Regions from separate parts of the Homo sapiens genome. Here all the other regions are linked to region 3. Evidence: fine-mapped expression QTL. A gene starts in region 3. Each other region holds a variant in brackets. All regions are shown on one strand. Distances are from middle to middle.

Region 1 (4,000 bases), 63 kb after region 3:
TCAGGACACTGAGGAAAGGCTGAGCTAGTAATGAATAGGGTTGGACTGGTGCTGCCTCTTTAGTGCCTAAGAAACGCTACCCTGGCCCTGTCTCCAGGCCTTGATCTCAAGGTGGGATTCATCCATCATCCACCACGGCCCAGGAGCCAGCTGTCCTCACTTCTGGGGTGACTTGTGAGTAGATAACAAAGGGGGTGCCCTCACCCTGCAGCGGAGTCCCCATGGGCCTTGGGGCCCAGAGGGAGATGGTATCTGTTTCCCATGGGCTTCCTGTCACAGGCAGATGACATCTGCTCTCTGCTCAGGGTAGATTTGGGGGCCTCTGCCACTGGCTGACTGGAACTCTCTTACCTCATTCTAGACTCTTCCAGGCAGCTTTCTGTTTGTTCTCTAACAGAAACATAGAAACAAACCAGCATCTTTTCTAAACAAAGAGGGACTTTTCACAGGAAGTTTGATGACCTGACGCGTTCCCCCTGCTTGTTGAAGCACGAGCCTCTTCTCTGACAGTTAGGGTGACTTGCTGGAGAACAAACAATAGACAATAGTTGTGGCCTACTTCCCGTGAGAAGCAAGAATGGTACAGGTGGATGTTGGGAGCCCCCAAACCCATGGAAGGGGTTTCCTGAGGACGTCCTATAGTCCCTGAACATGCAGCCGAGGGTTCCTGGGGTAGCAGCACCCGTGTGGTTAGCCCTGTAATGGGCTCACATTATGAGGCTTCCGTGGGTAGGCCCTGTTCAGAGAGCTTTGCGTGCTCTCATCCTGGGGAGTCAGGGTTAGGTTTAGGGTCAAGACTGATATAATGGCCAGGCACAGTGGTTCACGCCTGTAATCTTAGCACTTTGGGAGGCCAAAGCGGGTGGATCACCTGAGGTCAGGAGTTTGAGACCAGCCTGGCCAACATGGTAAAACCCTGTCTCTACTAAAAATACAAAAAAATTAGCCGGGCATGGTGGTGTGCTCCTGTAATCCCAGCTACTTGGGAGGCTGAGGCAGGAGAATTGCTTGAACCCAGAAGGCGGAGGTTGCAGTGAGCTGAGATCGCACCACTGCACTCCAGCCTGCAAGATGGAGTGAGACTCCATCTTAAAAAAAAAAAAAAAAAAAAAAAGTTGCTGAGTTGGCTCTCCAAGCCTCTTTCTCAGAGCCACCTTGGAGGGGGCCAGCCAGCTCCAAAGCCTGGGGTGTTGGCCTTTGGGAGGGAGGGGGCCTTGTGCCAGTCCCCCACACTTTGTCTGCTCCTCCAGCCTCCTTGGAGTACCTTGAATGTACCTTCCTATTGCTGTTCCCTCTGCCCAGAGTCCCGTGCTCTCCTCTCCACATTCCTTCACTGCTCATTGGCATTCAGGGTTGGGCATAAATATTACCTTCTTGGGGGCCTGTTATTTGCATCCTAACTAGCAGGGCTCCTTTGCAGCCCACTGCCAGCCCTGCCATTCTTCATCACAGTCCTCTGTTCATCTCTTTGCCACTTGTCACCAAAATGTGTAATTGTACCTTCATTGATGTCCAGTCAGCCTTCTGTATCTGCAACTTTCACATCTGTGGATACAACTGACCGCAGATTGAAAATACTCAGAAATAAAAGGATGCTTGGGTCTGTACTGAACATGTACAAACATTTTCCTTGTCATTATTCCCTAAACAATACGTTATAGCAACTGTATACACATAGCACTTACATTGTATTAGGTATTAGAAGTAATCTAGAGATGATGTAAAGTGTATAGGAGGATATGCATGGGCTTTATACAAATACTACACCATTTTATATCAGGGACTTGAGCATCCATGGACTTTGCCATCTGAGGGGGGCACCAGAACCAATCCCCTAAGAAACCAGGGGACAATTGTTCACCTCCATGACAGGCCCATAAGCTGCTCTGTGCAGGTGCAGGTCTGTCATGCGGCCCACAGCCCTCTCTGCAGAAGACCCTCAAATGCTGGGGGAATGCACAAATTAGCTGGGGGGCAGTCTCTAGGAGATTTTCAGCAGTTTCTCCTGAGAGGTGTGAAGCTGAGAGTTAAGTAGGGTTTTGTAGGTGTAACAATAGGCATTTTCCTTCCAGCAGCTCAAACTGCAGTGTGCTTGGCACGTTAGTGCAAAGGAAAAAAACTCACTTCATTCTTAAGAAAGCTCTGGAAATTTCATCTGTGTTTGAGTGAGTTGGCATGCTGGGCCCCTGGCGGAACACAAATGTGGAATTTGAACTCTACCCTACCTCAGAGAGCAAGGCTGAAGCGATAGGATGAAATGCATTTAAATGTCATGAGTGTTATTATTAGTCGTAATCTTATCTTTGTTAATAATAATAACAGGACCCGCCTAGAAGTGACTGAATAGCAGACCGGGCTTTCGTAAGTAAGCTCACACTGTCAGATAGCACCAGGACCTGGGGTGGCGCCGGCGC[C/G]GTTAGGGAGGGAGTGTTCACCGGAAACCTGCCCGGGCCACACGTGTACAGCCACATCCTCCACGCCCTTTGGGCGCTGGTCATTCAGAGAGGCCCTCTCAGACACGCCTGGCCTCTTTAGAGGCTCTCTCATCCCCTCGAGCTGCCAACACAATCAAGGGTCTGCAGGTTTGGGAACTCCAAGGCAGTTTCTCTTTACCAAGTTCTCTGCATAGCCTTTTGCCTTCTATTGTTTGCTGTCCCAGAGACTGGCTGAAACAATGTGTTTCCTACAGATTTTGTTTGCCTGCATTGACTTCTTTGTTTAGCTCTAGTAAACAGACATTTAGCATATACAGATCTGCACACTTGACAAAGAGGAATTTGGAGCCCTGGACGGGGTGGCTGCACTGAGTCACCAGCTCCTTGAACCTGAAGACCTTGGATGGTCCGGAGCTCGTAAATGACTCACCCCATCAGTGCTGGGCTGGTGTGTGCGGGGTTTTGTCGCCACCTTTGGCAATGGAAGAGGGGAACGTGGGGCCTTTGACTCGTCAGGGAAAAACAGGTGTGTGAGCACTAGGTTGGTGACGAGGTTTAGCAGCAGGTGGACTCTGGAGCGTGACTCTGGAGTTGCCAGTCCCAGCTCCAGCACTTTGATTAGCTGTGTGACGTTGGGGAAGTTGCTTGCCTAATATGTGTGTGTTTCCTCATCTGTGAAGACAGCACTAACCTCGTAGGTACTCGGGAGGCTGAAGGAGTTCATCTGTGGAAATCATTTGGCATGATGCCTACTCTTATTCCTTGTCTGTGGGGCCCTGTTTTGTGGGCTTGCCACAGTCTCATGACTCTGCTGGGAAGAGCCTTCCTGCGGGCCCCCTTGAGCTAGGAATAGAACCTGGATTTCTGGCCCTGTAGGCTGACGCGGCCCTCCTAGATGTAGTGGTGATGCCCCGTTCAGCAGAGATGGTTCCAAATGTTCTGAACTTCTGCCTTGTATGGGACCCTGTGCCGGCTGAATCGCATGGTAGCTCAGGGCATAGATGCTAAATGGGACGGTCCTGGGTTTGCACCCTGGCCTCTGCTCTCACCAGCTGTGTGAGCTTGGATGTGTTACTTGTTACTCAGAGCTTTTCTCATGTGTAAAGCTGAGTGCATGAGGCCGGGCGTGGTGGCTCACGCCTGTAATCCCAGCACTTTAGGAGGCTGAGGTGGGCGGATCACCTGAGGTCAGGAGTTCAAGACCAGACTGGCCAACATGGTGAAACCCTGTCTCTACAAAAATACAAAAATTAGCCAGGCATGATGGCGGGTGACTATAATCCCAGCTACTCAGGAGGCTGAGGTAGGAGAATCACCTAAACCTGGGAGGCGGAGGTTGCAGTGAGCCGAGATCATGCAGTTGCACTCCAGCCTGGATGACAGAGCAAGATTCTATCTCAAAAAAAAAAAAAAAAAAGAAAGAAAGAAAGAAACAAGAAACTGAGTGGATGAGATCTCTATTTCATGGGGTCGTTGCGAGCATTAAGTGTGCTAGTGTTTGTGAAGAGCTTGGGCGGGGCCTAGCACAGAGCCCTGCATAGTAGAGGTTTTGCCCTGACCCATGA
Region 2 (4,000 bases), 70 kb after region 3:
TGTAAAAATGAGTGTTATGCGCTTAGTGTTCCGAATTCAACATCAGTGAGGAAAGGGAGGGCCGCAGGAGTTTGGGGACCGTCTCGCTAAGCAATACTGCAAACACAGACAGTGACCCGATTTTCCATAGCTGTGCTAGCTCCTCAGGAGGTTTTGAGAATCCCCCTCATTTGGGTTTGAAGGAGGTCTCAGTGTCCTTCCTCCTCTGTTTGCCAGATTAAAGTTTCATACCTCAGAGCTGGGATACGCTGGGTTTTGATTGTAAAGGCATGCAGCTCAGACTCTGTTGTAAATGGTGAGTTTTTCTTTTTTTTATTACACTTTAAGTTTTAGGGTACATGTGCACAATGTGCAGGTTAGTTACATATGTATACATGTGCCATGCTGGTGTGCTGCACCCATTAACTCGTCATTTAGCATTAGATATATCTCCTAATGCTATCCCTCCCCCCTCCTCCCACCCCACAACAGTCCCCTTCCTGTGTCTATGTGTTCTCATTGTTCAATTCCCACCTATGAATGAGAACACGTGGTGTTTGGTTTTTTGTCCTTGCTATAGTTTACTGAGAATGATGATTTCCAATTTCATCCATGTCCCTACAAAGGACATGAACTCATCATTTTTTATGGCTGCATAGTGTTCCATGGTGTATATGTGCCACATTTTCTTAATCCAGTCTATCATTGTTGGACATTTGGGTTGGTTCCAAGTCTTTGCTATTGTGAATAGTGCCGCAATAAACATACGTGTGCATGTGTCTTTATAGCAGCATGATTTATAGTCTTTTGGGTATATACCCAGTAATGGGATGGCTGGGTCAAATGGTATTTCTAGTTCTAGATCCCTTAGGAATTGCCACACTGACGTTTTAAAAGTGAAATCAGAGAGTGTTTTTGGTTTTCTTGAAGCTGCCTTTGACATTTTAGCAACACAGCTGGGAGGGTAAGGTAGAAAACTCCAAGAAGTTGGAATTCAACTGTCAAAGTCAAAGCGGGGATGGACTTTTGGGAGTCCTGCCACAGCGGGACCTGAACTCAAGTCTTAACTTCTCCTCTAGGGCTCTTGTGTGAAAGAGGAATAGCTTCCTGCAGTTCACAAGGGTCGTACCATGATCAATTATTATTACGTTACACATCACTTCTGTACCAATTTATATTGGCACATGAAGTTAATATATCCCTATATCCATGCATTGCCTTTGTGATTTGGGAAAATCCGATGCCTTGGCCAAACCTCTGAATCATGTGACCACGTTTTAGCCTAATTTGGTGAACAAATCTTTAACCTCCATGTCTTCAAGTGCAGCATCAGTGGGTCATGGATCCAGAAGGTTGGCTGATTGGGATTCTCTTGCTGGGTGCTGCCGCACCTTGTGTGTCGGGTGCCGACACCTTGATCATTTCGGCCAGACCCCCAAGAGAGCCCACAGACCACCATGCTGGGTGGAGGCACCCAACACCTGGCTGACTGCGTGAACTTCTTGCTTCCCAGTGGCTCTCCAAACTAGTTGTGGAGGACGCGAAGGGGTTTCCTGATGTCAAAATAAAAATAACGATGTCTGTAGTTTCCCAGGAGGAATAATTGTTGATGTTGAGGCATGATCTCTGCATGCATTCTGTACCTGCTCCAGGGTGCCAGTGGAGGCTACACCCCTCTCCCCCTCTTCTGCTCTCTGCGACACCCCTGCCACAACAGACCTTGACTCTCCAGGCTGGGACCCAGGAATCCGTACTCTTTCAAAACCACTTTATTGAGTGTAATTGACAGACAGTAAGCCACACATATTTAAAGAATATGATTTGAGAAGTTAGGATATATCCATACC[C/T]GTGTGAATCTACATACCACAAACAAGTTATCCATCACTGCTGAAAGTTTACTCATGCCCCTTTATAATCCTGCCCTGTCATCCCTTCCTGTCCCCTGAACCCTAAGCAGCCACTGTTCTTGCTTTCTGTCGCTCTGGATTCGCTTGTATTTTCTGGATTTGCTTGTATTTTCTGGATTTGTCTATAGATGGAATCATATAGCAAGTACCCTTTCTCATGTGCCTTTACTTACTCAGCATGAAGATTTTGAGATTCATCTACACTGTTGGCGTATCAGTAGTTCATTCCTTTTTCTTATTGAGTAGTGACCCACTGTATCGATAGACCACAGTTTGTTTACCCACTCAACTGTTTGCGCAGGTGGGTTGTTTCTAGTCTCTCTATGGACAGAGATTTCCTTTTCTCTTGAGTAAATACTTAGGAACATCTGGATCATATGGTAGGTATAGGTTTAACTTTTCCAGAAATTGACAACCTGTTTTCCAAAGTGGTTATTCTTTGGGACAAGGAATCGTTGTTTTTAGATAAGCTTCCCCAATTCTCCTGTGGCCTCTCCCTTCCCGAGACGGTCTAATGGCCCTGAGCGATGGCTCCTATGTGCCCGTCTCCACCTGTTCTCTCAGGGCTAGCTTGGCCTTGGCACCTCACTGCAGGCCGCCCCTCTGCTTGGGGTGCTGGACAAGCAGAAGGGGAACACTCAAGTTCTTTCTCTCCATAACTGCCTTCGGGAAGCCATGGCAGATGCGTTGACTCTCTGTAGGGCTGGCAAGCTGTGTGGCGAGTCCCTTATCCAATGTCGCTGTGTCCCACAGGGAGGTCTTAAAGAGGCAGCCGACTTTTGTGGCCTCCTTGTGAAAGCTTCGATGCCTCAGGGATCATTTCTGAGCTGACTGCTAGTTGGACTTGGGCCCACTGAAGAGACAGCCTGGGATCGGATGTCCAGAAGAGACAGATCTGAGCACGTCTCTTTCCTCTCCCTCCTCTTTTCTTCTTAGCCCTTCCACCTATCACTCATTCATTGCCCCTTCCTAGGTTCTGTATTCATTTGCTGGGGGCTTTAACAATGAGACGTTATTTTCTCCCAGTCTGGAGGCTGGAAGTTCAAGGCCTAGGTGCCAGCAGGATTGGGGTCCCTGGAGCCCTCCCTCCTTGGCTAGGAGATGGCCGCCCCCTTGCTCTGAGCCCACATGGTCCTTCCTGTATGCACCTGCACCCCGGTGTCTTTCTGTGTCCTGACCTCTTCTTTTTTCTTCAAGACGGAGTCTCGCTCTGTTGCCCAGGCTGGAGTGCAGTGGTGCAGTCTTGGCTCACTGCAACCTCTCACTCCTGGGTTCAAGCAATTCTCCCACCTCTGTCTCCCGAGTAGCTGGGATTACAGGCGTGTGCCACCATGCCAAGCTAATTTTTTGTATTTTTTTTAGTAGAGACGGGGTTTCACCATGTTAGCCAGGATGGTCTCGATCTCCTGACCTCGTGATCCACCCGCCTTGGCCTCCCAAAGTGCTGGGATTACAGGCGTGAGCCACTGCGCCTGGCCCCTGACCTCTTTTATAAAGATATCAGTCACACTGGGCTGGGGCCCAGCCTAATGAATGGCCTCATTTTTGCATGATCTCCTCTTTAAAGGCCTTATCCTCAAATTTCTCCAAATACAGTCATGTTCTGAGGTGCTGGGGGTTAGAACTTCAACACAGGAATTTGGGGGCATACAATTCTGCTTATCACAGGTGCTGAGCCCTGAGTGCAGTGCTTATGATAGAAAGATGAGCTGGATAGTTCTTCCCCTTGTGCAGCTCAGCATCCTGGGGGAGAGAAAGTGGGAAGATCCAGTTTTCTGATGAAAGAAGATGGAAGGAGGAGGGCTCGGTGCTACTAGGGGGGTGGGAGTGGATGGTTAAGACCAACTTGACTCCAGTGACAGCAGCAAGGGCTCCTCATTCCTGTTGATGGTGTGTCCTTCAAAACGTGCCGTGGTTCTCAAGGAGTGAGTGGCGGTGGCCTGCAGCCCTCTGGCACTTTGTGGCCGAGGCCAGCTCCAACGCTGCAGGGCAAGAAGAGCCACGCTGCAGGGCAAGAAGAGCCACGCAGCAGCACTGATGTGCGTGCCAGTAACTGCCTGGTGTTCTAGTGAGTGCTCTCCCTCGAGGAGCCTACTCCATTCTCTAGGGGATCA
Region 3 (4,000 bases):
GGCCCAAGAAAATTGTTAAGGTGCATAAGCCATCTAAAGGCATTCAAAAATTTTCTTTCTTTTTTTTTTTATGTTAGCCGAATAAACAAACTTCGGGCTTCATCAGGCCCTATGCTGCCAGCAAGTGACCAGCGTGGTTGGTGGAGGGCTCTAGGAGCTGCCAGCTTTAGGGGTCTCGCTGTCTGAGAGAGATCCTTTCATTAAAGGTTAGGGCTCTAGGCACGTGAATATGTAGCAAAGACCAAGCCTGGATTGCTTAGAACAGTAATTCCTGGAGTGGTAAGTGCCTGAAAAGTTACCCGCTGAGCCCTCCGCCTTCTGACAGGTAAACTGTTGTTGCCCCCATTTTGCAGACAAGATAAATGAGGCCCTGGGAGACTCACTGACCCAAGTCTAGACACCAGGAAGTGGTGGTGGTGGGTATACTCCCCCAGGAAAGCAGGTAATCTTGGGTTGTTACAATCAGTGACCAGACCAGTTTCCAAGGCCTGGAAGGTTTATTGATTTCTTTATATTCTCCAATGCATAATAACTGTTCTCTGTTTCTCTCGGCACCTCCCTGCGACTTCCTGGCAGCCCTGGGGACAGAGGGTTTCCTCCTTCTGGACAGAGAAGGCCCAGAGTCGGCTTCTGAACGGATATCCGGCCCGCAGGATGCAGAGGAGGCAAAGGCCTCATTGTTCTTTGGGGCCTGCCTGCCCCGCCCCCAGCTGTAGGACACTCGTGGCAGATCCCGGGTGACCGAAGACAGCCCATTTCCAGGAGTGGGGCCTTCGGAGCGGAGGGAGCAAGGAAACGGGGCTGAGCACAGACCTGGAGTCTGATGTTCTGAGCATAACACTGGAAGGAGCTAAGAGCCCCAAAATAAATAAGACCGGAATTTAAAAACGTTAATCCCACGCCGGCTTGGCGCTGGCCTGGCTGTTACTCATTAACGCTCCCCACGGCGGAGACTCCGGCGACTCCGTCTGCGTTTTTATTACTTAATCTGGCTGGGTTTGGCTGCAGGGAGGCTCGTGGATTTGCTGGCCGGGTGTGCTGGAAGGCAGTTTATTCACAGAATAAGCAGCTTCCCACGCTGGACCCTGAGCCCCAGGCGCCGTCCGCGTAGACCCCGCGCCGCGCACCGCGGCCGGCGGGGGGCGCTCGGGTCGCACCGAGAGCAGCGCGGGCAGCCAGCGCCGGGTCGCAGCCGACCCGCAGAGCCCTTCGCGCCCTCCGAGGAAACAAAGTGCATCTTTGTCCGCGGCCCGAGGCGCCGCGTGGGAGACGCTGGGCAGGGGCCAGGCCGGGCCGGCCGCCGCCGCGTGCGGGGACCCTGGGCGCGCGTCACTGACCCGGGACTCAGACCCTCGCGGGCCTGGCGCGGACCGGAGGAAGCGGGCTGTGGCGCGCGGCCGAGCTGGCAGCCCTCCCACTCCGAGCACGGCTCGGGACCCGCACTGGCTCCTGCCGGGCCGCGGCGCTTCACGCGCCGTCACCGGGGCCCGTGCACTCCGCTTTCCGGGCTGGCGACGGGGCGGGAAGGGGGCAAGCGGGAGCCTGCGGGGGGGTGCTGGGGACTTCGGCTTGGCTGGGCCGCCTTTGAGTCGCCTGTCGGCCGGGCGGTGCCCGCCTTCGCTTTCGGTGCCGTCCCGGGGCGGGTCCTCGCTCCGACAGCCGCGCGCCAGCCCAGCTCAGCCCCGGCGCCGCGCGGCCGGGAGGACTCCAGCTCCCAGCAGGCCCCGCGCCGCGAGCACCGAGGCAGGAGGCGCGCCTGGGCCGGCGCTTGCGCAGTGCGGCCGCCCGAGCCTGCTAGTACCACACCCCCGGGAGGGACTGAGGGGAGGCAGAAGCATCCGAGGCATTAAAGCATCCGAGGGAGCCGGAGGGGAGGAGAATGGAGTGACAGAGACACGCGGAGGGTGGGGGGTGGGGGGGAGCGTGTTGAGGGAGGGGGGAGGGGGGACACAGAGGGAGGAAGAAGCGGCGGCGGCGGCGGCGGCGGCGGCGGCTCCTCTTTGCAGAGGGGGAAACTCTTGGGCTGAGAGCAGGAATAATGCGGTAGGCAAGGCGGGCTGCTGGCTCCCCCGGCTCCGGCAGCAGCGGCGGCAGCCCGAGCAGCGGCAGCAGCAGCGGCAGCACCCCAGGCGCTGACAGCCCCGCCGGCCGGCTCCGTTGCTGACCGCCGACTGTCAATGGAGCTGGAAAACATCGTGGCCAACACGGTCTTGCTGAAAGCCAGGGAAGGTAAGAGGCAGGGCCGGTACGTGCCCGGCGCGTCCGCCGCGGGCCAGGGTGCGGGTGTCGGGTGGCGTGCGGGCTGGGGCTGCGCCCGTGCAGGATGCCCGCTGCCGGCGAGTGGGTCGCGAGCAGGACACTTCGGAGAGCGGCTCTGCAGACCCTTCAGGGTTCCTGCCTTGGGGCTCAGAGAATCTGGACTTGGGCTGAGAAGGTTGCAGGGATTTGGATGCTAACATATCTCCTAGTTTCCAGCGCTCGCCCTGCAGAGCGTGCCATCTCGGCAGCTGTTGAAAGGTCAGTTGGAAAAGCATTCATTCGGGGAGCGACGAGCAAACATGCACATAAAATAGCGTTTCAAGTCGGCCCGGGATGGTTCTGTGTGAACTGGTGTGTGTGTTCGAGGGGCGGGGGTGGAATGAGCAGAAGCCAAGTCTTTGCCTGCGCAGGCTGAGTTGATATAGACTATTGCTGGAAACCATCCGCTGGGATGTTTCTTAGGGAAATCCCGTCGTGTGGAAGGAAGCCTTTTAAAGGCAAAGTCAGATGTTGAGGAATTAGCCTTTTCATAGAATTATCAAAGGATGGCTGTACAGACCACCTAGAAAATAATTCAGTATTTCAGGTTTTTCTTTTCTGGGAGTGTGATAACTGAAATTGTTAGATTTTGGCTCAGTTAAGAAAAGAAAGGTAAGTGTGCTGGTGCTTTAGATACGTTTTCTATGCAAATCATTAGATTTCCTGCATTTAGCTGGCAGGAAATATTGTCTAAATGGAGTGTGTAAGATCCTGAGTCAAACCCTAAGAACGCATATTTTGACTCTTCCTTTTGATGAAAAACAGAAAAAAGGGGGGGGAGGCAGAAACTTGGGTGCTTCCTGAAATGATTGTGTTGTGTCCATGTAAACATATGTATTTAGGAATACCTGGAATTTATGTCGCATATTTTCCTTTTTTTTTTCTGGTCAAGATTTGAGCTCTAGTGTGCGACCTTTTTCATAAAAGGGGAAGAGGTTTTTCCCTTTCACGGGAGAACGCTTTATTTGATACAAGGTAGAAGGCAGACTGAGTAAGGGCTTGAGTTTAGAAGGATACTCGGTGAGCAGCCCATGAAAATGTCTTACCTGCTTAATATTTTCATTCACCTACTTTGATGAATGAAGGGAAGAATTTCTGGCCAGCAATAAAACGATTCGTGTTTATTCAGCCCGTTCCATCACCTTGTGGCTCCCTACACACTGTGGGGGTAGGTGATGCATAGCCTTCCGTGGGCAGCGTTTCAGCAACTCAACCCGGCATTCGTGTCTTACTTTCGTCGTCACTTGTCACTCTAAAGCAGCCAGTGGGCAAGAAGGTTTATTTCAGAAGCCCCGAAGGGAGGCAGTGCTTTGAAAACCCCAGCAGAGTTTAAAATATTCAGGTTAGTCTCCCTCCCATTGCTTAGCTTTGGTGGGAATAAATTTTTAGGAGAGGCTTGTTACTTGGTGACTTCAGGTTCTAAGGCCTGAGCTGTGTGTGTGTGTGTGGTTTTTTTTTTTTTTTTTTTTTTTTTTTCCTAACCTGACATTTTTAGTGGACAGGATCTAGGTGGGTGCTGGTAGGCTCTCCTCTGGGTTGGGGAATGGTCCTGAAAGGGAGGAAGCAGAGAAAACAGCCCTCCACCTCCCCCGCCCCTCTTTCAGCCTTTGCAGCTGGCCACCTAGTGGTGGGACACGGTTGTGTATCTCAGGATTCGGGGGCTGGGAAAGTTTTCACTCTCGCTCCATTCTGAAATTATTTC
Region 4 (4,000 bases), 85 kb after region 3:
CTTCTCTCGGACTTTTGCAATAGCCCCTAAAATGCTGTCCTCCTGGTTTTGCTGACATCGTGACGATTTTAAAGCTGCATCTGACCATTTCCTTTTCACAAAGTGGTTCTCACTTCTGCCTCTAGAAGGCAGGCACTGTCTTCCCTTCCCAGGTACCCCGCAATCCAGCCATTCCCAAGGACTCACACAGCCCTTGGAAACCTTTCTGCTTAGAATGTTGTCCTGTCCTCTTCTGCTTGGTGGCTACCTACTTGTCCTTCCGAGTCCCTCTGAGACATCCCACCTCCGGGGAGCCTTCTAGATTCCTTGGGCTGGGTTTCCCCTTCTGTGTGTGTGTAGCCTTCTGCTCACATCGGTCCTGCAACAGCCCTGTGTTGAGACATAATCATCTCTTCCTTGTTTGTCTCATCTTCTGGGCTGGGCTCCTCTAAGGAGGGGCTGCTTTCCATCCTTGTGTTCCTGGCAGCAAAGCCACTGCCTGTCCAAGTCAGAGACAGGAGCATGATTATTCAGTGAATGAGCCCAGGATGGAGTGAGGAGGATTGTGGGAGAACAGGAGGGTCAGACAGATTGTTCTGTAGTGGTGGCTTTGCAGAGGGGCAAGACTTCTGCAAGTCAGTCCTTGAGGGATGAGCGGACATTAGATTGGTAGGTGAATTTGGGATGGGGGATGTGCTAGAGGCCCCAGAGCCAGCCGCAGGGTATGGGGTGATCTGGCTGGTTGTACATTTTTCTCCATGATCTTCATGTTTCGTGTAGACTGATCCCTTCTACTTTCTGAAAGCTGCCATTGGAGGTGAAGCAGGGCTCCTTTGGATTTGCGGTATCACCAATTCGGCAGGAGATGCAGTGAAGCTACACCCAGCTAGACCCATTTAGCTACACCCAGGGTTGGGCGTTCAGCCTGGCATCCTTGGAAAAACAGGTCTGGGTGCAGGCTCCCTGTGGCCACTGGCAGGATCCTTTGTTCAGTCTGGAGCTGGGTGTGATGGTGTGACCACGGCTGCCTCGGGCGCTGGTGGGTGCAGAGCTGCTTCCTGGAGCCAGGAAGGAACTGCTGCTGCTGCCTCCTCCTCCTCCTCTTCCTCCTCCTCCTCTTCCTCCTCCTCCTCTTCCTCCTCCTCCTCTTCCTCCTCCTCCTCTTCCTCCTCCTCCTCCTCTTCCTCCTCCTCTTCTTCCTCCTCTTCCTCCTTCTCTTCTTCCTCCTCCTCTTCCTCCTCATCCTCCTCCTTCTCTTCTTCCTCCTCATCCTCTTCCTGATCCTCCTCCTTATCCTCATCCTCCTCCTTCTTCTCTTCTTCCTCTTCATCCTCTTCCTCATCCTCCTCCTTATCCTCATCCTCCTCCTTCTTCTCTTCCTCCTCATCCTGCTCCTTATCCTCATTCTCCTCTTTATCCTCATTCTCTTCCTTCTTCTCCTTTTCCTCCTCATCCTCCTCCTCCTTCTGCTCATCTTCTTCCTCCTCCTCCTCTTCTTCTTCCTCCTTCTTTTCCTCCTCTTTTTCCTCCTTCTCCTCCTCTTCCTCCTTCTCCTCCTCTTCCTCCTTCTTCTCCTCCTCTTCCTCCTTCTCCTCCTCTTCCTCCTTCTTCTCCTCCTCTTCCTCCTTCTCCTCCTCCTCTTCCTCCTTCTCCTCCTCTTCCTCCTCCTTCTCCTCTTCCTCCTTCTCCTCTTCCTCCCTCTCCTCATCTTCCTCCTTCTCCTCCTCTTCCTCCTCCTCTTCCTCCTCCTCCTCTTCCTCCTCCTCCTCTTCCTCCTTCTCCTATTCCTCCTCCTCCTCTTCCTCCTTCTCCTCCTATTCCTCCTTCCCCTCCTCTTCCTCTTCCTCCTCCTTCTCCTCCTCTTCCTCTTTCTCCTCCTCTTCCTCCTTCTCCTCCTATTCCTCCTTCTCCTCCTCATCCTCCTTTCTTCCTCTTCCTTCACAAACACATGGTGCCTCGGCTTCACAGGGATAGCCCCCATGTTCATCTGCTCATTGCTTCTGGGTTGCTGCCTTGGGCAGGTGGCTATTTTGGGGTCTTTCAGATAATTTAAAAAAACCCAATACCCTAAACCTCCCCAAACCTAATTCTCACCCTCAGGGCCTAAGTACATTTGAAATTGCACACAAACTTAAGGTTGCTGTGTGCTAGATGGGATGCGGTGAGGGACAAGGCTCTCCAATCATAGTTTTTCCTAGGTGTCTGTGAGGGATTGGTTCCAGGACCTCCTGAGGATACCAAAATCTGCAGATGCACAAGTCCCTGACAGAAAATGGTGTCATATTTGCATATAACCTATACACAGCCTCTGGTATATTTTAACTCATCTCTAGATATAATGTAAATGCTATGTAAATAGTTGCTATACTGTATTGTTTAGGGAATAATGGCAACAGAAAAAGTCCATACATATTCAGTACAGATACA[GT/G]TTTTTTTTTTTTCTGAATGTTTTCAATCCATGGTTGATTAAATCCACAAATGCAGAGCCCGTGGATATGGGAGGCCAACTGCGTGTTGACTTTATGTTTTACAAAGCACCCTCTAATCATTGAATACTGGGAAACTTCAAGCTCTGGGCCAGGCACTGCACTCAGCATTTGGTGGCTTCATCTCCTGTCATATTCTGGAGCCGTATGAACAAGAATTTTCCCATCTTATAAATAAAAGAGCGAAGACCTGAAGAAGTTATGTATAAGCTGTTGTTTAAGGTTATGCAGCCAGGAAGTGGCTTACTCTCTTTGAATCTTACCCCATTCTTGTGAAACAGGTGGAGGACATATTTTTATCTCCCATTTAACAGACAAGAGACTTGAGGTGGCTGGATGCCGTGGCTCACACCTGTGATTCCAGCACTTTGGGAGGCTGAGGTGGGTGGATCACTTGAGGTCAGGAGTTTGAGACCAGTGGGTGCTTTTCTCTGGCGACGCCCAGTCTGTTTCATTAGCTAACAGATGCTAAGCTCTACCATGGGATAGTTGTAAAACCTTGAATGCAAAGCTTGAATACAATTGAGGAGCAGAGATGGGGTATACAGCAAGCACTCTGTGTATTAAGTGATTGTTGTTCCTCGTCTGTCTTTTGACCTCCCAGTGCACAGCCATGGGTCTGTCACTCTGGTGACCTTTGGCCGTGGGCATTGGGAGGATAGTTTATGTTGACTGCGGATTGCCAGGTACCAAGTATCAGGCAAATTGGCTTCTTTGTACATTCCTCCTTCCGGATAGACCTTGGGCCTCCTCGTCACTGCCCAGGAGATTTGCTGGGAATCTAGGAGGGAGTGGATGATGGCCTGGATGCCTGGGTGGTGCTGCCTCTGCCCCGAGGCAGCAGTCAGTGCCAGGGTGGGGCTGGGTGGGTGCTGCCATCGCCTCGGGGTGGTACCCGAGTCTGGAGTAGGAACAATACTCTATTGTTACGTTAAACCTGAAATAGACGCCTTCAGATGGAGGGGGTGAGTATGAATCTATTACGATCTAATAATGACAAGAGCACTCTGTGTCTTTTCAGATGCTTGACAATCACCTGCTAATCCCGGGGGTCTGGGAGCTGAGCATTTTCAACCTCCACCCCCACCTCTGCTTTGTGGAGTTGGGGAAAAACAGAGACCCAGGAGCTGTGAAATGAGGGAGGCTCAGCTTCTCCACTTACTTTCATGGTGTGAGGAGACGCATGTGTATTTGCCTCTGACCCCTCCTGCAGGGAGGAAAGCGTACCTGGATCTGGGTGAGAGGCATGTGTGGTGATGAGAACATTTCACAGACCCAAGTTCAAATCTCTGCTCTGCCACTCGAGCATATTTCAGAACCTGTCCTAGTCTCAATTTCTTGGTAAGGTGAGACTATAACCACTTTTAATGGGTCCACAAGGCCTGATCCAACCCAGCAGGTGCTCTTGCGGGTGAGGACCACATCTCGGTTGGTTAGACGTGTCCCCCCAGCCCTCTGCCAGGACCTAGGAGTTGGGGTGAGGGGCTGGGTTGCAGGGAAATGTTGAATCCCAAAAGCAGATTTCCCAGGCAGGC
Region 5 (4,000 bases), 43 kb after region 3:
GAGATACTAGCTGGGCGCGGTGGCTCATGCCTGTAATCCCAGCATTTTGGGAGGCTGAGGTGGGTGGATCACCTGAGGTCAGAAGTTCAAGACCAGCCTGGTCAACATGGTGAAACCCCGTCTTTACTAAATATACAAAAAAATTAGCCGGGCATGGTGGCGGGTGCCTGTAATCCCAGCTACTCAGGAGGCTGAGACAGGAGAATAACTTGAACCCAGGAAGCGGAGGTTGCAGTGAGCCGAGATCGTGCCATTGTGCTCCAGCCTGGGCAACAAGAGCGAAACTTCGTCTCAAAAAACAAAAAACGAAAAACAAAAAGGAGATACTAATAATACCTACCTTGTAGGGTGAAGTGACTTAATATATATATCAAATAAATATCATATGTAGAATACCTACTTTGTAGGCTTATCTAAGTTACTTAGTACATATATCAAATAAATATTATGTGACACACCAGGTATATCATGTATCAAATATGTATGAATTGTGTGTAAACACTTTAAACATTTTATTTTATTTTATTTTACTTATTTGAGATGGAGTCTCACTCTGTTGCCCAGGCTGGAGTGCAATGGCGCGATCTCGGCTCACTGCAATCTCCATCTCCCAGGTTCAAGCAATTCTCTTGTCTCAGCCTCCTAAGTAGCTGGGACTACAGGTGCGCTCCACCATGCCCATCTAATTTTTTAAATATTTTTAGTAGAGATGGGGTTTCATCATGTTGGCCAGGCTGGTCTTGAACTCCTGACCTCAGGTGATCTGCCTACCTCGGCCTCCCAAAATGCTGGGATTATAGGCGTGAGCCACTGCGTCCAGCTGACTTTGAACTTTTTAAATGCTCAAAAAAGTTTACTATTACTGTGTCATTGTTATTGTAAGTGCATAACTCTTTGTGCACGTGTGCAAGGATGTCACAGATACCTGGCAGTGGGCTTAAAGATGAAGGGTCTTAACAAATTGCCTTCCAGAATGGCCCCACTAAGTCATGCTCCCAACAGTGGAGTCTCTGCTTTCCCGCATTCTTGGCAACTCTGGATAGGGACTAGGGCTTAGAAAAGAACACTGAATCCTCAAAGAGCCTCTGACCTCCACAGAGGCTCTTCAGAGTCTAGGAGTGCTGTGCCCAGACCTGTGGGGTGAATCTCCCTGGAAAGCCTTCAGTCAGAACATGCTCATTGTTTGTTGAGTGAGAGTCTCTTCTGTGTTAAGCCTTTGACCTGTAAATTTTCATTTTACAGATGAAGAAACTGAGGGGCTCAGAGAAATTAAATCACCTGCTCCAGGTCCTGAAGCTACTTGTGGATGTAGGGTTTGAACTCAGTTGTGGGGGCCTTCATACAACTTTCTTTGCCATTCTCCCTAATTCCAGGAAGGATAAGGCAACGTCAGAGATAGTCATTTTCTTTAACTTTTTCTTTTTCTTTTATTTGAGGCAGGGTCTCGCTCTGTCACCCAGGCTGGAGTGCAGTGGCGTCATCACAACCTATTACAACCTTGATCTCCCAGGCTCCAGGCATCCTACAGCCTCATTTAAATTTTTTTTTTTTTTTTGTACAGTCAAGGTCTCACTTTGTTGCCCAGGTCTTGAACTCCTGGACTCAAATGATCCTACTGCCTCGGCCTCCCAAAGTGCTGGGATTACAGGCATGAGCCACTGTGCCTGGCCCTACACCACATATTCCATCCACACTTTTTCCTTAAGTCAGCACCTTGATGACTGGATCAGAGCTACACACAAAATTGGAAGTGAACGTTGGAGAA[A/G]GTGGCTTAGTCATGACCTGTGTTTATCTCCTCTTGCTCTGAGTAAAGAGGATGTGTAATAGAGTATGTTACTATATTTTTCATATCCCGATGCCATAGCCTGTGCTGCCCAGTCACACTGAGAACAATGCAGTTCTCATAGATAACCCGTTGTTGGGTGATATGTCTATTTCTAGGCATCTCCACGCTCTCCTATCGAGGGCCTTTGCAACAGTATTTCCCATGTTCCATCAGCGCGTCTGCAAAACATGAAGCAGCTTCATTCACCCAGAGACTCCTGACCTTGTGCATGAGGGGAAAATGTTTCTGGTTTTGTGTGTGTTTTCAATGACGAACATTTGCATTCTTTCCTCCCCTCACTTTTTTTTTTTCTCACGTTGACATTAAGAAACAACAACAAAACGCTGCTTGCTCCCAAACTGTTTGAATTTAAAACTCTGAATCTTAATTTGCATAGACAGTAGTTCTTTACAAGGAATGTGAACCATTTGACAGAATTTCCTGAAGGAACAAAGAGCCATGATTTCCTGATTAAAACCATGTTAAAACAAAAAGCAGACTATAACCAAAAGGCTCTGTAAGAGTATTTCTTGTTCAATCAGATTTCAAAGGCAGCACAAGCTGGATGTTTATGGCATCACCAATGCCTTTCTGTGATGCCTGAGCTTTTCAAGAACATACTCAGAACTTTGTCTTAAGCCTGTCTTTACTCGGAGCTGTCTCCCGAAGCCTTGGCCTTCCTCTCCGCAGCTTCAGTTACTGAGTCACTGGAACAGAGGAAGAAGCCCAGGCTTCCATTCTGACAGGCTGCGAACATTTATCTGGAGTTGTAATTGTCATACTCCCACGTTATTTTCTTGCTGTCTTCTAAAGCGATGATGAAAGATGTCTGGGGGAAAGAAAATAAAACAAAAAACCTTCTAGCATCTACACACCTAAAGCAGGGTTTGTCAACCTTGACACCGTTGCCATCTGGGGCTGGATAATTCTTTGTCATGGGGGCCGGCCTGTGCGTTGGATGATGTTTAACAGCATCTGTGGCCTTTAGCTTCATAGTTATGACAACCAAAAATGTCTCCAGACTTTGTCAAATGTCCTCTTGGGGGTAAAATTGCTCCTGGTTGAGAACCACTCGCCTCGATTTTGGTGGTCTAGAATTTGCAAGCTGCTTCTCCGCCCTGTGCATATCCAATCCTCAGCCCTTCCACTAAGGATTAGAACTTGATTTTCTTCTTTTCATCCCACCCTCCCTGCCTTGAGATATTGCTGCATCTGGACAGATGTGCCAAGTACAATTCTGGCTCAGGTGACTGAAGTCTAAGTCAGACATATGTCTTCACTCTCCCTGACCATCCCTCTTGCTGCTGGCCTGCGTGGCGTGCTCGTGCCGATAGGGGCAGCTGTGTGAGTAGCAGGACCATCCTGGAGACAGCCATGCAAAGGGAAACCATCTGGGTGGGGTGAGCTTGCCAGCCCCAGCTACAGGTCCTGGTGGAGTTGACAGTTGATGGATCACTGTGCTGTGACCTCTGGGCAGCCCAGGCCTGCGACGGGCAGAGAGCTGTCTTGTTTCTCCTTTTGGAACCTGAAGGGCAGAGACAGGGTGAAGTTGCCAGGAGAGGCTTTCAGCTGGATCCTAGGGGCCAGCGTGCAGCCCTTTCCCAGGGCTGGGGGTAGGGGAGAAGTGTCTCTCTCTGGGCCGTGTGGATGGGCCAGAACCCTGAGCTGGGTGCAGAGGGCTACGCTGGAGAGGCGGGGAAGGGCACTGGACCGGGTGTCTCGAGACCTGGGCATGGTTTTAGTTCTACCCCGGGTAGCAGCACGATCTTGTGCAAATAGTGTCTTCCTTCTGGTCCTCATGTTTCTCGTAAAGCTGACTTCCAACTAGAACAGTCTACCTTTCTATTTTTCTCCTGATTTGTAGAAAAAGATGGTGCTGTTAAGAGACGGAAATGTGGCCTTCCTAAATTTGCTTTGAGTCCTGAGTTCCTGATTTGGGGGCAAGTGTCTGTGAAGGGCTTGGGGTCACTCTGTGGCTTTTGCCTCATTTTTATGGGTCGTAGAGGATACCTCAATAAATAGCATTTTTCTTCCCTGAACAAATTGAGAGATGAGGCCATGGTTGAAACTTTGAACTTTGGAACTTGCCCAGATGTATCAGGTCAGTCACCCTCCTCCCCTGGGGCCAATAAACCAAGTGTTCCAAAGGCCAGGTGGTCTTAGGGAAAATGATGG
Region 6 (4,000 bases), 180 kb after region 3:
GGAAGGAAGAGGAGTGGAGAGCGGTCATGAAGGGTGTGAAGTCATCCAGGCCCCTCCCCTCCCCGCCAGGTGCAGGGGCCGAGAGGCTGCTGTTTCCTGAAGGGCCCTCATGCCACCATTGGCTGCAGCCATCCCGACCTCTATCTCAGTTTGGGGGACAACCCTTTAGGGTTTCAAGTCTCTGTATCTGCTTCAAGATCTCGATGTGCATCTCTAGACCCACAAACCAAATTGCCCACTGGACATCTCCACTGAAGTCACAAAGGCCCCCTTAAAGTCAGTAAGTCCCAAATGCACTCAGGACTTTCTCCCAGGACCCCAAAGCTACCAGCCCTGAGACATTACCTGTTCCAGTGACCAGCACCCTATAGTCACCCGAGCCTGAAATCTTTGCACTCTTTGATGCCTTCCCCTCCTCGTCCTTCCCCAACCTGATCAGGCTCATGTGCTTGGCTCCTTGACCCTGCCCAGGCCAGCTCCCTCCCCTCTGCAGGCTCTGCCTTGGGCTTAGGGGAGGCTCTGCCTTGGGCTTAGGGGAGGCTCTGCCTTGGGCTTCGGGCAGGCTCTTGGCGCCTCTTGTGTGAGTGATTACAGTAGTTTTCAATCTTAGCTGGGCGTTAGAAACACCTGGGGAGCCTTAAAAACACACCAGAGCCTGAGCTGAAGCCCAGACCAATTAATTTGAATCTCTGGAGGTGGGGCCTAGTATTTTAATAACTTTTTATTATGGAAAATTTCAAGCTATAAAAAGTAAAAGTCGACAGAATAGTGTAATGAACCCCCAGGCACCCTTCACCCCACCTTTATGAACCCACAATTATGAACTCATGGCCAATCTTCTTTCATCCATTCCTCCATCCTTTACTCTGTAACACTTTGTAGCAATTTTCACATATTATCTCATCTGTGAACTTTTCATTATGTATCTCTGAATAAGAGCTCTTTAAAAAATAGTACTATCACAGCTTAAAAAATTCTTTCCTATCATCAAATGTTAGTATTCAGATTTCCAGTGTTCTCATACATTTTATGTGTATTTGTTTGAACTGGTCTGGCTAAGGTCCACACGTTGTGATCTGTTGATGTTTTCTTGACTCTAGGCTCCCCCATAACCATCCATCCCCCTTTGTAATACATTTGTTGTTCCTACAGAAGAGCTTCCCACAGTCTGAATTTTGTATTCTTATCCCTAAATGTCATTTAACAGGCTCCTCTATATTTCTTTCTTTTTTTTTTGTTTTTGAGATGGAGTCTCGCTCTGTTGCCCAGGCTGGAGTACAGTGGTGCGATCTCAGCAGACTGCAAGCTCCGCCTCCCAGGTTCACACCATTCTCCTGCCTCAGCCTCCCGAGTAGCTGGGCCTACAGGCGCCCGCCACTACACCCGGCTAATTTTTTGTATTTTTAGTAGAGATGGGGTCTCACCGTGTTAGCCAGGATGGTCTCGATCTCCTGACCTCGTGATCCACCCACCTCGGCCTCCCAAAGTGCTGGAACCACAGGCGTGAGCCACCGCGCCTGGCCTGGCTCCTTTATATTTCTTATACGTTGCTAGTTGGATCTAGAAACTTGACCAAATTCGGTTTCCGTTTTTGCAGGGTGGAGTGGGATTCGACTTCCTCAGTGGTTTCATGTTCTTCC[A/G]TCAGGGGACATACACCATCTGGTTGTCTTTCTTTTTGAAATGGTAGCAGCTATTGCTAGTCTGTACCTGAATCTGTTAATTAACAAGGGCTTGCAACATGGCAACATTCTAATTCTGCCATTCCTTCTTCATTTGCCAACAGAGGCACTTCCTTTTGATGACCATGTGGTGACCCAGTGGTAAAGTTCATAGAGGAAATGGTTGATTCTTTTCTCGCATTAATGTTTCTAAAATACCAAACTGGTTCACTACCATCCTCCAGTAGCAGTAACTATTTTTAACTTGTGGTTTTAAACATGTTGCGTGTGTATTGTTGCACTGTAGTCATTATCCTGACTGATGCTCATCGTCTCATCAGTGGCTAGTGGGGGCCTCTCCAGGTTGGCTTCTGAGTCCCTGGCTGGGCTCCAGCAGTTATCAGTAGTCTCCTTGCTGTCTGATATGACGCAGGGTTCTGGGCTCATCTTGTACTAGATCCATTGTTTCTCAGAGGAGCTGTGATTCCTTTTACTGGGACATAGCAGTTGCAGGCCACAGTTTGGCACAAGGGTTATTACCACTAGGCCATCGATTCTAGCACCTATTGGCATTTTTCAAAGCTCCCAGGGGTTTAATGTGTATCCAGGGTTGGGAAGTAATGACATCTAGGATAAAGTCCAGGTTCCGAGGCTGACTTACCAGATCTTCCAGCATCAGCTCCTGCCCACCTTTTCACCGTTGGCCTTCCCGGAGTCTTTCTTCAGCTCTGTGTTCTGGCCCGACCACCCACTTCTGGCGTTTCTGACTTGCCAGGACAGTTCAAGCCTCTTGGCCCTAGCTCCCTCAGGCCTCCCTGCCTGAAATCCTCCCCACAGTCCCATTTGCCTGGCAAATGCCTACTTGTCCTTCTGTCCCCTGTTCTCAGAGGCCCTCCCGATCTCCCTCTTCCTCTCTCTCCTGCTGTGCCCCTCTGCTGTGGGTGCTTGCTTCTCACATGCACCTGAGCCACACTGCTGCCCCGTGCTGGCAGAGGTGCATGATGCAGAGTGCAGCCTCCAGAGATAGGATGCCAAGACAAAATGGCTCTGCCACCATCTGTTGGTGAGACCATGGGCAGGTGTTTAACCCCTCGTGTACTTCGTGTCTTCATCTGTAAGTGGGGATATAGCTGTATCTGATGATGGGCGAGGTGTTAGGTAGAGACTACATGAGTTCTTACCGCTCACAACCATGTCTGGAATAGCACTGAGGCTCAGTGAACCTAGCCATTGAGGGGTCTGTGTGCCTGTTCCTCCACTAGCCAGAGCCTCTTTGTGGCACAGACGTGGCCCATGGTCTGTGAATCCTCAGCCCACAGTGCCACACGTAACAGTTGAGTGATGCTCAGATTGGGCCCAGTGGAGGTTGGTGGCTTGCCTAGAGTCAAAGAGCATGTGAGGGGCAGAGGTAGGCCCAGAACCCAGGTCTCCTGGCTCCCAGTCCAGGCTCCTTCCTCTGCATCATGCTGCCTCTGAGACCATGAGCATCATAAGCCAATGACATGGAATGTTCGAAGGTGAGAACTGGGATGGAAAAACAACTGGAGCAGGTTAAAGGAGGTTGGGAGTTTGGATATGGGGAGGCTGGTTGTATCATGAAGTAGGATGGTCAGCATTGGAGTCTTTGAAAAGGCGACATTTGACTGAGGACCAGGAAGTCGTTGGAGGAGTTAGCCAAGTGAATATGTGGTGAAAGGGTGTTACAGGCAGGGAACAGCCAGCACAAAGGCCTGAAGGCACGAGTGTCCGCAGTTGGAGGGGAGGGAGGAGGGGCAGAGGGGGTAGGAGAGGAGGTGATCATGTAAAACTTTGTGCCATCAGAGAACTTTGACTTTGGGTGAAATGGGGGAGCCACTGGAGGGTTTTTAGCAGAGCAGTGGCATGGTCTGACTTGGGGTTTTATTTTATTTTATTTTATTTTATTTATGAGACAGGGTCTCACTCTGTCATCCAGGCTGGAGTGCAGGGGTGGGTTCGTAGCTCATTGCAGTCTCAACCTCCTGGACTCAAGTGATCTTCCTACCTTGGCCTCCTAAGTAGCTGCAAATACGGGTGTGCACCACCATGCCCATCTGTGACTTAGGTTTTTCAAGAATCCCTCTGGCTTCCATGTTGGGAGCAGGCTTTGAGGGGCTGAGGTGGGAGCAGGGAGATCTGCTAGGAGGCTGTTGCAGCAGTCCAGGTGAGAGCAGCTGGTGGCTCAAGCCATCTTAGTAGCCCCTGGCGGTGGTGAGAAGTGGTTGGATTTGAGACTTGTGTGGAAGGTGTATTCTCTGATGGATTGGGGATGAGAGAAGAGTTAAGGAAGACTTCAAAGTTTTGACCTGAACAAATGGAAAGAT
Region 7 (4,000 bases), 190 kb after region 3:
CTCTTCAAGTGGTGGCCTGGCACGGACTCTTTGAGAAAGGCCTTTTGATCCCGGCAGGGGAGGCCTGTCCCCGCGTGCTCCCTCTGCCGCCCTGTGGACCTGCGTGCCCATCCACCGGCGGGGCCTCTGCCGGGAGGCAGGTGACCTGAAAGGGATGTTATTTTTTTAACGTGGGTTTTAGTACCCACAGCAAGAGTATTTTTAGCTGGTTATTGAGGCTGATTAGTGAGCCCCAGGCCTCCATTTGGTTAAATAGAGCCACCTTCACAGATGTATTTTCGTACAGTGCAAATCTAGTGTTCTGGATGGTATAGAGTTACCCCAAATGATGGCCGGCCATTTGCCCAGGGCCTGCGTCCTGCAGAGCAGTCTAGCTACATTCCCACGGTGCCGGACCAACGGCGGGCTGTCCAGGGGCAGCAGGACCCTGGGTGCTTCTCATTCTGGAAAACAGCAGGCAGCTGGCTCTAGAGTGCTCAGCCCCTTTGGAGACGCCACTGCTGCCCCGTCGCTTGCTAGCTGTGCTGTATTGGAACCTCTTAGACCCTTAGTTTCTTCATCTGCAAATCGGGACTAATAATACCTACCATGTAGATATAATAATAATACCCTGCCATGTAGGGTGAGCCTGGAATCAGCACTCCATATGGGGTGTGTGTCTGTGTGTGGGTGTCTGTATGTGTGTGTGTAGGGGTGCGGGTGTGTTTGTGTGGATGGGTATCTGTGGGTGTGTGGTGTTTGTGTGTGGGTGTCTGTGTGTAGGTGTGTGTGGGTATGTGTGTGTGTGTCTGGGTCTGGGGGGGTGCGGGTGTGTTTGTGTGGATGGGTATCTGTGGGTGTGTGGTTGTGTGTGTGTGTCTGTGGGTGTGTGTGGGTATCTGTGTGTGTCTGCGTCTGTGTGGGGGGTGTGTGTGTGTGTGTGGGTATCTGTGGGTATGTGTGTCTGTGTGTGGGTTTGAGTGTGTGTGTGGGTGTCTGTGTATGGGGGTGTGTATCTGTGTGTGGGTACGTGTGGGTGTGGGTGTGTGGGTGTCTGTGTGTGGATGTATCTGTGTGTGTGTGGGCGTGTGTGTGGGTGTGTATCTGTGTGTCTGTGTGGGCACGTGGGTGTGTGTATCTGTGTGTCTGTGTGTGGGCATGTGGGTGTGTGGGTGTGTGTGGGTGTCGGTGTGTGTATCTGTGTCTGTGTGTGGGCATGTGTGTGGGGGTGTGTGGGTACGTGTATGGGTGTGTGTATCTGCTTAGTGGGCACGTGTGTGGATGTGTGTGGGTGTGTGTATCTGCGTGTCTGTGGGCACGTGTGTGTGGGTGTGTGTGGGTGTGTATCTGTGTGTGGGGGCACGTGTATGTTTGGGTGTGTGTGTGTCTGTGTGTGGGTGTGTGTCTGTGTGTGGGCACGTGTATGTTTGGGTGTGTGGGTGTGTGTGTGGGTGTGTGTGTGGGTGTGTGTATCTGTGTCTGTGGGCACGTGTGTGTGGGTGTGTGTGGGTGTGTATCTGTGTGTGTGGGGGCACGTGTATGTTTGGGTGTGTGTGTGTCTGTGTGTGGGTGTGTATCTGTGTGTGTGTGGGCACGTGTATGTTTGGGTGTGTGGGTGTGTGTGTGGGTGTGTGTATCTGTGTCTGTGGGCACGTGTGTGTGCACACATGTGCACTCAGGTTTAGGAGAGCGACAGGGGGCACAGAGGAAGAAAATAACAGGAAAAAGTCAAGAAGAAAGAGCCACCTTAAAGCATCTCAGGAATTCATCTCTCGAGTCAAATCATCAAGAAGTGCCCAGTCCCTCAAGGCTCATCTTGATGTGGAAGAGGAGTTGACCTCTGGGGAGAGGCTCTGCCCACGCGGCGCAGTGGGAATCCAGAGGCCAGCGCGCCAGTCCAGCAGCTGTGACCTTGGACCTTGGGCAAGTCCCTGACTTCTCTGAGCCTCTGTGTCCAGCCCTATAAAATGAGGGGTGGGATTCCTTACAGAACCACTGCCCTATCTCCCTGTGATCTAAATGATTGTAGTGTTCATGTTTCTTCATGGGAGAAAATCATTGGATCTTGGCTCTCCATTAGAAGAGAGAGGGCAAGACAAGGACACTCGCTCACTGTGGTTGGAAACGAGCCTGGCTGCCTCTGTGGTCACTGCGAGTGCCGCCTGCGTGCTCCCTTTGGCTGGCCTGGGAGGAATCGGACCCTAGACACTGAGGTGTGAAGTTTCCCTGAGGGCCGGCTGGGCATCTGACTGCATGGTGGGA[C/T]GCCTGGGGAGGAGTTCGGGTCCGTCTATGCTGGTGTCATTTCCTTCCTCTTTTGAAATAGCTGTACTTTTGGACAGAGGCTGACAAATCCTTGGGTGGTGGATTTTGAAATGGTTATAAACAATTTGCAATTAGCTCTTTTGTCTAAATGAGAAAGGGCCGCTTACTCAGGCTTTTTATTGACTCGAGGCCCTTTATCCATGTGGCGAGTGCGTCAGATGTGAGCGAAGGAGCCCCTCTGGGATTCAGGGAAATTAAAAAGTCTGTTTTTTGGAGACCTCCCATCTTTAGAGCTTGGGCCCCCTGGCTTGGCTAGTTATCAGAGTCCTAAATTCTGTGGTGTGGTTGAGGAGAAGCCCTGCGCTTGGAGGTTCGAGTCCCAGCCCTGCCACCTCCCGCTGCATGACCCTATGCAAGTCCCTTCCCACCGCCGGCCCTCGGGATCTCCACCTACAGACGAGGGGTTGGGATGGCAGCCCCTGTTCTCCTGCGTCACTGCCCTGGCTCTTTCGAGGTTCAGATAAGAACATCTTAAAAAACCTGTGTATGTTCACTTTGTAAACTGAAAAGCTGGAAAAGACCAGGCATCCACATTATTGTTTATCCTTGCAAGGTGTAATAATCACAATGGCGGTAACTATAGCAACTGTTTATTATTATTTATGATGGGCCAGGCCCCAGGCCAAGAGCTTGATCACTTCCGTCTGTATAATCAGTGTATACCTAGGTGCTGGTACCATCTGCGTTTTATAGAAGGGTTAAGCAAATTGTCTACGATCACACAGCTTACAAGGTCTGAGTGACCTAAGGCAGCTTCTCGGCAGCCTTCCAGTCTGGTGGGCTGTTATTTTTCTGGTAGTTTCCTTTGATTCATCTAAGTCAGTGGTCTTCAACCCCGGCTGCCCAGGTGCCAGCCCTCATGGCCCACTGGAAAGCCTGGTTTCATGGGTCTAGGGTGGGGCCTAGCATCAGTGTTTGCTCAGGGCTCCCTGCTGATTCTGATGTGCAGTCTGCATGGAGCACCGCCATCCTGAGACCCAGCATCTGTGAGAGAGGGCAAAGTAGTTTGGACTAAACATCGGGGCTCCGTGGCCAGGTCTTCCCCCCCGGTTTCCTGACCTGCAGGAGAAGGGGGTTGGTCAGGTGGCCTCTAGGGGATTTCCTCCAGGGGCTGTGAGGTTCTGTAACTATAAGAAGCTCATGAGCAAACCTGTTATTGTTCTTTTTTCTCCTTCTGTTTTAGGCAGAATATGAAGTTACTCCAGATGAAAAACTGGGAGAGAAAGGGAAGGAAATTATGACCAAGTACCTCACCCCAAAGGTAAGGAGTCTTCCAAACCCCACAGCAGGTGGCACAGGAGGCCTTATGCAAAAATAGGAGCCCCTAAGTCTGTGCCAGGCCACATGGGGAGCTGTTAAGTGCTGGGCTGGTGGCTGTTGTTGACCTCCTGAGATCACAGTTCCCATCCTCCCCCAGAGAGTGCCCAAGCCTGGCAGGGCCAAGATGGGGATGGTCTAGGCCAGGACTGGAGTAGGGGCGGGATGCCTGCTTCTTGGGGCCCAGCCCCTTCAAGGGTCACCATGCTGCTGTGTGCCCACACCCAACCATTTGTGGTAGGGCAGATGGAGGCCTGGCCAAGTTCAGGAGAAGTGCCCAGAAGGAAGGGCTTAGCAGGGCAGTTCTGAGAGGTCAGCGTGGAGGGGAAGTGTTGGGGGTTGACTGGGAGGGAAAGGGGGTGCCCAACGACATCAAAGAATG

Evidence for each region.
Region 1: its variant is fine-mapped to the expression of GRK5 in whole blood (TOPMed, PIP above 0.99).
Region 2: its variant is fine-mapped to the expression of GRK5 in whole blood (TOPMed, PIP above 0.99).
Region 4: its variant is fine-mapped to the expression of GRK5 in whole blood (INTERVAL, PIP above 0.99).
Region 5: its variant is fine-mapped to the expression of GRK5 in whole blood (INTERVAL, PIP above 0.99). The same link has a PIP of 0.9 or more in platelets.
Region 6: its variant is fine-mapped to the expression of GRK5 in whole blood (INTERVAL, PIP 0.97).
Region 7: its variant is fine-mapped to the expression of GRK5 in whole blood (INTERVAL, PIP 0.97).

The regions. Positions count from the first base shown.
Region 1 is chr10:119,268,742-119,272,741 of GRCh38, forward strand. The region is part of intron 1 of GRK5 (G protein-coupled receptor kinase 5); the gene reads left to right. Among named protein-coding and RNA genes, the nearest start is that of GRK5-IT1, 62 kb to the left of the region's middle. RefSeq lists enhancers at 1-208, 339-588. The variant C/G (reference allele first, on the strand shown) is at 2,415.
Region 2 is chr10:119,275,816-119,279,815 of GRCh38, forward strand. All of the region lies in intron 1 of GRK5 (G protein-coupled receptor kinase 5), which reads left to right. Among named protein-coding and RNA genes, the nearest start is that of GRK5-AS1, 62 kb to the right of the region's middle. The variant C/T (reference allele first, on the strand shown) is at 1,827.
Region 3 is chr10:119,205,741-119,209,740 of GRCh38, forward strand. GRK5 (G protein-coupled receptor kinase 5) reads left to right here and starts at 1,831. Exons shown (of 16, transcript NM_005308.3): 1 at 1,831-2,229. The coding sequence starts at 2,178. It overlaps GRK5-IT1 (GRK5 intronic transcript 1), which reads left to right and starts at 2,681. Exons shown (of 2, transcript NR_186528.1): 1 at 2,681-2,910. RefSeq lists enhancers at 338-417, 528-577, 598-707 and silencers at 1,048-1,877, 2,088-2,157, 2,208-2,257.
Region 4 is chr10:119,290,443-119,294,442 of GRCh38, forward strand. The region is part of intron 1 of GRK5 (G protein-coupled receptor kinase 5); the gene reads left to right. Among named protein-coding and RNA genes, the nearest start is that of GRK5-AS1, 47 kb to the right of the region's middle. The variant GT/G (reference allele first, on the strand shown) is at 2,407.
Region 5 is chr10:119,248,979-119,252,978 of GRCh38, forward strand. The region is part of intron 1 of GRK5 (G protein-coupled receptor kinase 5); the gene reads left to right. Among named protein-coding and RNA genes, the nearest start is that of GRK5-IT1, 43 kb to the left of the region's middle. The variant A/G (reference allele first, on the strand shown) is at 1,766.
Region 6 is chr10:119,381,698-119,385,697 of GRCh38, forward strand. The region is part of intron 3 of GRK5 (G protein-coupled receptor kinase 5); the gene reads left to right. Among named protein-coding and RNA genes, the nearest start is that of MIR4681, 5.7 kb to the left of the region's middle. The variant A/G (reference allele first, on the strand shown) is at 1,641.
Region 7 is chr10:119,393,211-119,397,210 of GRCh38, forward strand. It overlaps GRK5 (G protein-coupled receptor kinase 5), which reads left to right. Exons shown (of 16, transcript NM_005308.3): 4 at 3,485-3,562. Among named protein-coding and RNA genes, the nearest start is that of MIR4681, 17 kb to the left of the region's middle. The variant C/T (reference allele first, on the strand shown) is at 2,242.